2 linked regions of the Homo sapiens genome follow. The protein of the gene in region 1 interacts with the protein of each later gene in a pairwise test. Each region holds a gene or a part of one and is shown on either strand. Other genes may lie near its edges. The genes, in order: CRAT and PEX3.

Region 1 (3,823 bases):
CTGGAGAGACCCTGCTTCCTGAATGGGGTCTTGGGCAGCTCCCTTCCCTGCTCCGAGCCTCAATTTCCCCATTTGTAAAATAGGGAGGATGCTCCCTACTTCATAAGGCTGCTTGTGGGGCAGAAAGATAAACAGGGTCGGGGCCCCTCCAAGCGGCTGGGCGAAGTGAACTCGAGGGGCCCGGCTGCCTCCTGGCCCCCAAACCCCAGCCACTCACCGGAGCTGACCCTGCAGGTCCACGAAGTCCTGCTTGGGTAGCATCACGCCTGGGCTCGAGTAGATGACCACAGGCTGGCGGTACTGGAGGTAGGCGGTCTTGAGCCACCACTCAGACAGCTGGGAAAAGTGCCAGAGCCTGTCAGGAGGGGTGCATGGGCCCTGGTGCCCCCTGTTCCCCAGGGCTAGGGGACCTGGCTGGCCCCCATGCCCTCTACCTGGCTATGGAGATTCTCAAAGTAAATGCCTAGATCCAGAACCCACCCTCCCTGCCCCACAACTTAAACCCACCAGCCTCTTCCCTTTAGCCCGAGTGATCAGTATTAGCCAGATCAATCCGATGCTGCTGCTAAGAAAGGATGTGAAAGAAAGATCAGGAGGAAACCCGGGGTGTGGGGAGGGGCAGCAAGGTGAACGAATTCTTTTTTTTTTTTTTGAGACAGGGTCTCGCTGTGTCATGCAGGCTGGAGTGCAGTGGCGCAATCTCGGCTCACTGCAAGCTCCGCCTCCTGGGTTCACGCCATTCTCCTGCCTCAGCCTCCTGAGTAAGTGGGACTACAGGCGCCAGCCACCACACCTGGCTATTTTTTTGTATTTTTAGTAGAGACGGGGTTTCACCGTGTTAGCCAGGATGGTCTCGATTTCCTGACCTCATGATCCGCCCGCCTTGGCCTCCCAAAGTGCTGGGATTACAGGCATGAGCCACTGTGCCCGGTCTTTTTTTTTTTTTTTGAGACGGAGTCTCGCTCTGTCCCCCACGCTGGAGTGCAGTGGCATGATCTCGGCTCACTGCAAGCTCCACCTCCTGGGTTCACGCCATTCTCCTGCCTCAGCCTCCTGAGTAGCTGGGACTACAGGCGCCCGCCACTGTGCCCGGCTAATTTTTTTTTTTGTAGTTTTAGTAGAGACGGGGTTTCACCGTGTTAGCCAGGATGGTCTCGATCTCCTGACCTCGTGATCCTCCCGCCTCGGCCTCCCAAAGTGCTGGGATTACAGGCGTGAGCCACCGCGCCCGGCAAGGTGAACAAATTCTCATCTTACACATTCTCTGTCAATGACTGTCATATGTTAAATTAAAATGTATGCCTGAATAGATAGAAAGGAAAAAAGGGAAGGGTCTACAAAAACAAAGTCCAATGAGTGACTTTTTTTTTGAGACAGGGTCTCACTGTCACCCAGGCTAAAGTGCCACGGTGCTATCTCAGCTCACTGCAACCTCCACCTCCTGCATTCAAGCGATTCTCTTGCCTCAGCCTCTTGAGTAGCTGGGACTATAGGTGCGCACCACCATGCCTGGCTCATTTTTGTATTTTTTGCTGCAGACAGGTTTTCACCATGTTGGCCAGGCTGGTCTTGAACTCCTGACCTCAAATGATCCACCTGCCTCAGCTTCCCAAAGTGCTGGGATTCCAGGCGTGAGCCACCGCGTCTGGCCCAATAAGTGAGTTTTTGACCATCCCCAGCAGAGAACTGTCCAAGGAGGCAGGAGACTGGGGTATCAGAGCAGCCTGAGGAACCTGTGGCCTCGGGGAGTAGATACCCACTTTGATCTCAAGGTCAGGGCAATCTTGAGGGGATGCTCCCTGCAAGGATGAATCCTTATGCTAGTGACAAGATGTGGGTGACACATCCTTACTCTCTGCCCTGACGGTCTGTCCTCTCTCTGGGGGGTGGGGGGTCTCTGGGCACCAGCCAGGGATGTGGTATTAAAGGCTCCATGTCTGGCGCTGCGCACACTCCCAGGTGACTGTCACCCTGTGTCCTCTATGCTGACTGCAACACCCACCCTTCCTGCACACAGCCAGTACAGCTTTCTCTGGCCTTCCACCCCCAGAGACCTGGGCCCACCTGCGCCCCCTCAACCCGTGGTGAACAGCAGCAGGATGCGCCTCTTCATCACACGCACTCCCCTGCAGCACTGGGCCACTAGCCTTTGGCAAGGGGTGAGGGGGAGGCAACTTGGCAAGGGGTGAGGGGGAGGCAACTTGTCCCCAAGTTGTACAACAGGTGACTGGTAGCCCCTAAGAACTGGGTCCCTGAGTCAGTCAGACCTTCCTGTGTGGCCGAGGGCTTCCTTGAGAGCTGCTGTGTGGCTCTGGGCTTTTGGGCCACCTCTCTGGGCCTTAGTTTTCCTCATCTGTAGATCAGTGAAGGGCAGACAGGAGCTTCCTTCCCTTGGGGAAACAGCCAGGGGCCTGTACTCCACTAGGGATCCCAGAGCCTCTGGCCAAAGCTTGGGAGACCAGAGGAGACCCCGCAGGTATGGGTACTCCCCCAGCGAGAATCTGCCAGGTGGTGGCGGAGACCCTTCGGTGGCCCCGTGAGTGGAAGGAGGGGTGCCCCCACCCCTTTAACCAGGAGCTTCTGTTTGAAGGAGTCCCAGGCTAAATGAAGTCGGAAAACCACCAGCCCCCAGACGCTCTAAGGACCTTTCGGGGGAAGCATCTTGGTTCTGGAGTCCAAAGTCCTGACCTGACGCGTCTCAGCAAATGTTGACAACTCCCACCTCCTGTGTGCAGCCCCACAGCCTCCGCCAAGCCCCAGGGCTAGAGCTCTACCTCCCCTCCCCATGGCACCCCCTATAACACAGCATTTCCCAGGGCCGGACCCGCTCTGGCTCTCCCACAGGTAGCTTCTCTCTCAGGCAACCCCGACTTGGCAAATTCCACCCGTGCCCCCACCTCATTGGCAAGTGACACTGGCACTGCCTCCAAAACAGTCCTGGACCTAACGACTCTCCCTCTCTCCCATCCGGTGTCAGACCCAGGCTGCCACAGCTCCTTGGGGGTGATGTCACCCCTCCCCCTCGCCTCTGGCTTCCACTCTGCCTCCCTCCCAGCAGCTGGGTCACCTTTTTTTTTTCCCAAGACAGAGTCTTGCTCTGTCGCCCAGGCTGGAGTGCAGTGGCACAATCTTGGCTCACTGCAACCTCCACCTGCCAGGTTCAAGCAATTCTCCTGCCTCAGCCTCCCCAGTATCTGGGATTACAGGTGCGTGCCACTACGCCTGGCTAATTTTTGTATTTTTAGTAGAGACAGGGTTTCATCATGTTGGCCAGGCTGGTCCCGAACTCCTGACCTTGTGATCTGCCCGCCTTGGACTCCCAAAGTGCTGGGATTATAGGTGTGAGTCACTGCATCCAGCTGCCACTTTTTAAATCTGTGTATTGAAGTATGAGATGCAAATAGAAAAGCACACCAAACATTGGTGTAGACATATTTGCCAAACTGGGTACACCTGTGTCATAGATCAGATACAGAACCTGGGCGATCGGTCACTGAGTGACACATATCCCCTGCCTGAGGCTGTCCCACCAAGCACAAGGGCATCTTCTATCTGGTTGTACCTGCCGTGCACCCCACTCCTGCCTCTGTCCTGGAACATGAAACCTTGTCCACAACCTGTATCCTGTTCATTACCTTTCTCTCCTCCCTACTTGAATGTTAGCTCCAAGGAGCTGGTGACTGTGTCCTTCTTGATCACCCAGCACCCTGCCAAGTGCCAGACACAGAGTATGTGCTCACGAAACTCTGGGCAGCAAACGAACGGCCGTGCCAGAGCAGTGGGCACTGGAGAACTGTGCATGTGCAGCCAGCAGCAGGTCACA
Region 2 (3,823 bases), on another chromosome or scaffold:
ATGTTTGTCTAACATAAAGTTACATTCTCTGCTGAGAGGTTTTTTCAAAAAATCACAGAACTTGGAACTACATGTAGAGTATGGTAGAGTGTCCCATGAGAGTAATAACGGACCATAGCAAATGTGTAAGTTTGGAGTACCTTTCTCCGTGTTGTAGTCCAACACTGTGGGACTACATTTTAGTCCAGGTGTATTATAGTGGTCAGTTGAATTTATATAGCATGAATGTTTGCATTAAGCTGTGCTAGTAAGAAGATTGATCCTTGGGGCAGATCAAGGATCCTGTTCTACACATTTTGAGGAAAACTAAAAAAATTTGTGGAGAAGTAAAGCATTTTAGTGATTAATAAAATGTAACAGTTAATAGTGCATCAATAATATGCTCACTAAAAGCCACATAAACAGTGGGTCATTTAAATGTTTTATCAGACTACCTATAACTCCATCTTATTTCTTCATTTCCATTTGGAATGCATGGAGTAATTCAGTAATTCATTGAGTAATTCAGTAATTCATTGAGTAAGACAAATATTATAAACAAAATAACTTTGAATTTCTGAGTCATGTGCAAACTTGGAAACTGTGTTATAAGTTAAAAAATTGTTTGCAATGCCAGTTGCAAACTGCTTCAATAATGTACAATGAGAAGAGACCCTATGGCCTAAGCATAAAGCTGACATCTTCTTAGTGTAACTTGTCTCAGACAATTTAGTGTATCCTCTCTGTAGACTTTTTACTCTTGGGAACGTGGAGAGCACTGAGACTAAGAGTTCGTTTCCTCCTTTCACTGTGGTGTCATCAGCCTGTCCTTCACATGCACATTTTCCCACACTGGACTCTTCAGTCTTCTGTCCTCTTTCTCACCCCTAAGAGCTTGGCACTCATATTGCAGAAGAAATAGTGAATAAGACTGATCTCATTTTACTGAATGTTAAGCTTCACATCTATATCAATGTGAGAAAAAGGTCATAACTTGGGGCATTTAAACCTTACCTTTACCTTTGTCCTCTTCTGTAGAAGTCCCTGGCTTGGCCAGTAGGCTGTTCATTTTGACAGATGAGTGGAAATTACAACCAAGCATAAAGCATCATCAGCCTTAATGCTTAAATAATTTTATGCACTACACTTTAATTAAAATCGATATAATTGATAATAAAAACAAATGTTTCAATATGGTAAAAACGCCATTGATACTAATGTTTAGTAAAGTTTTTTACTGTAACTGGATGTATATTAAATGTATATACTAGACCATTGATTGACAAGGCTATTACAATTATAGTTTAATTTTTTAAACTATAATTTCTATGAGTTAAAATACCAAGTGGTCTTCTTAATAAATTGTCATATGCTTTACTATTTCCACTTATCTTTTTATAAAGCCTTTGCCTTGATTAGAATGCTAATTTACATAAAATTAGTCCTTTCGAATTACTGCTACTACTTCAACTACAATGGTGTGTAGGAGAGCCTATGGTGGGAATGCTGTAGAACAGGGGTTTGGCAAACTGTACAGGGCCAGATAGTACATACTTTAGGCTTAATGCAACATACATTCTCTACAGAAACTATTCAACTCTGCTCTGGCAGTGTGAAAGCAGTCAGAAACGTACATGAACAAAAGAGTATGGCTGTTTCAACAAAACTTTATATACAAAAACAGGCGGCAGTGGATTTGGCCTGCAGGCCATACTTTGCTGACCCCTTTGGTAGAAGATATTAGGATGGTAGTTGGTAAAGGTAGGAAATGGGAGAATCAGAAAACAATCGAGAAAGGTGGTTTTTCAAATTATTTTCAAATAGCTTTCAAATAACATAAGCAGGAGATAAATTATTTCAGATTGCTTTCAGATAACATAAGGAAAGAGCTTTTATAGTGTGAACCAACCCTATGATACATAATTTTTATCTCAGACTACTGAAACATCCTAGAAGCTGCATCAGGATACAGTATTTGAACAGATTAAAGTCTTTATTATAAAGCTGATATAAGTTAGCTATGACCTATGAGCCAAATCCAGCCAAGCACCAGCTTTTGTAAGTTTTATTGGGTGACAGCATGCCCATTGGTTTATGTGTTGTTTATGGCTGCTTTTGCACTACAATGGTAGTATTTCTCAGATTTGTCCATACACCTCACATACATATGTACACACATATACCACAGTCCTCCAGTGTTTAAATCATTTTTAGTGTATAAATTAAAAACTCAATAAGATCCTTAAGATTAGAGCTTTTTCGTAACTCAAAACCAAAGCACTTTTATTGTCAAGTAGAATCTAAATTACAAAAAAAGATTGTTCTATAATATGGCTGACGTCTACTATTAATAATTTGTTGTGCCAAAGTGAATGTGGACCTGTCTGCTACTGTTCATGCTGTTGAGCATTCAGCCTGCATTTTCTGAAGCTGACTTGCTAGTATTTTTTTTTTTATCTACTGTAACTATTCTGAAAGCTTCATTTGTATCATGTGTTTTACATGATTTGGTCTTCATTTGAAAGATTTTCTGCCTCTGTTCTTCTCTCATTAGCACAAGACAGTTAAAGTAATGTTACTTAAAGCCAATAAGAACATAAATATAAACAAATGCCCTAAAATCAGGAACAATAGTAGGTTATATATTTTATCTTCTCAATAATCAAGAGCGTGTTTGAGTTTTCTTTACATTTTCATAGAAATCAAAACACAAAATTTCCCCTCAAATTCTTGGGCCCCTGAAAGTATGTCTGTAAATTCTGGTTTGAGAAACATTGATCTAAACCTATGTTTCATTGAACACCTAGACTGAATACTTGAAACTAAATAACATCAAATTCTCTGATGAGATAATTTAACCATGAATTGATTGAGATTAGGACATGTCTAAACCTCACTTGGATTTTCCGATACTTAAGAAACAGAGATCACTAGGGACAGGTTTACTTCCCATTTCTTTGACACTCTCAGAGGCTGTCAACCTTTTCTATCATGGACCCTTTCACAGACTGGTGAAGCCTATGGACCCCTTCTCAGAACAATATTTATAAGTGCATACAATAAAATACATAATATTATAAAGGAAACCAATCATATATAGTTTTCAAAATTTCTTTTAAAATTAAGTGTATGATATAGCGGTATTGCTTCTTTATTCATGCATTAAATACCAAGATATAATGAGAGTTCTGATAACTTCCACAACTGTCATATGACATGAAAATGCCTATGATTTCTATTGAAGACAAAGTCATACAACCTGCTAATATTATCACAGTTTGTTGCCTACATTCATAATTGAAAGAGATACCAGATTTTGGTTAGAAGTTAAAGAAAATGAAGGTGTAATTTTTTTCTTATCTTCACATTCGCAAATCCCTTGGGGTGTTAATAACCCTTACACTATAGTGTATATGTGTGGTTCATGTATGTGTGTATATGTAAAATATGCACTTACTACACATATTCATACCGTATGTTAGATCTTCTAGAAAGTAATACACCCTTAACCGTGTTATGTCAGCTTCCAGCAAAAGTACCTTTACTCCTACAATTATTTATTCAACAGATACCTATCTAGCACTTGACATACACCAAAATTCATTTGAAGACTATTTGGGGTTTTTGTCCCTCAAAGTCACACTTGAACGCTTATGATACCATCATCCCTCATATAAGAACCTAAATAATAACTATCTCCTAGAATTTATTACAAGAAAAACTACTCATTTTCTTAAATGGTTTGCCTCTTGGCCTTTACCACAAAACTTAGAGCTGAATTCATCGCTTGATTGCAGAAATTAATTCAAATTAGCTATATGTTTTGCAAACTATAATGTTATAT

Evidence for each region.
Region 2: the proteins of CRAT (region 1) and PEX3 come close enough for resonance energy transfer, tested with the Homo sapiens proteins (one large-scale study listed by BioGRID).

What each region holds. Positions count from the first base shown.
Region 1 is NC_000009.12:129,103,971-129,107,793, forward strand, and holds part of CRAT (carnitine O-acetyltransferase), read right to left. Parts: intron 337-3,823; coding exon 218-336; intron 1-217. UniProt on the Homo sapiens protein: Catalyzes the reversible transfer of acyl groups from carnitine to coenzyme A (CoA) and regulates the acyl-CoA/CoA ratio. Also plays a crucial role in the transport of fatty acids for beta-oxidation.
Region 2 is NC_000006.12:143,485,305-143,489,127, forward strand, and holds part of PEX3 (peroxisomal biogenesis factor 3), read left to right. Parts: intron 1-3,823. UniProt on the Homo sapiens protein: Involved in peroxisome biosynthesis and integrity. Assembles membrane vesicles before the matrix proteins are translocated. As a docking factor for PEX19, is necessary for the import of peroxisomal membrane proteins in the peroxisomes.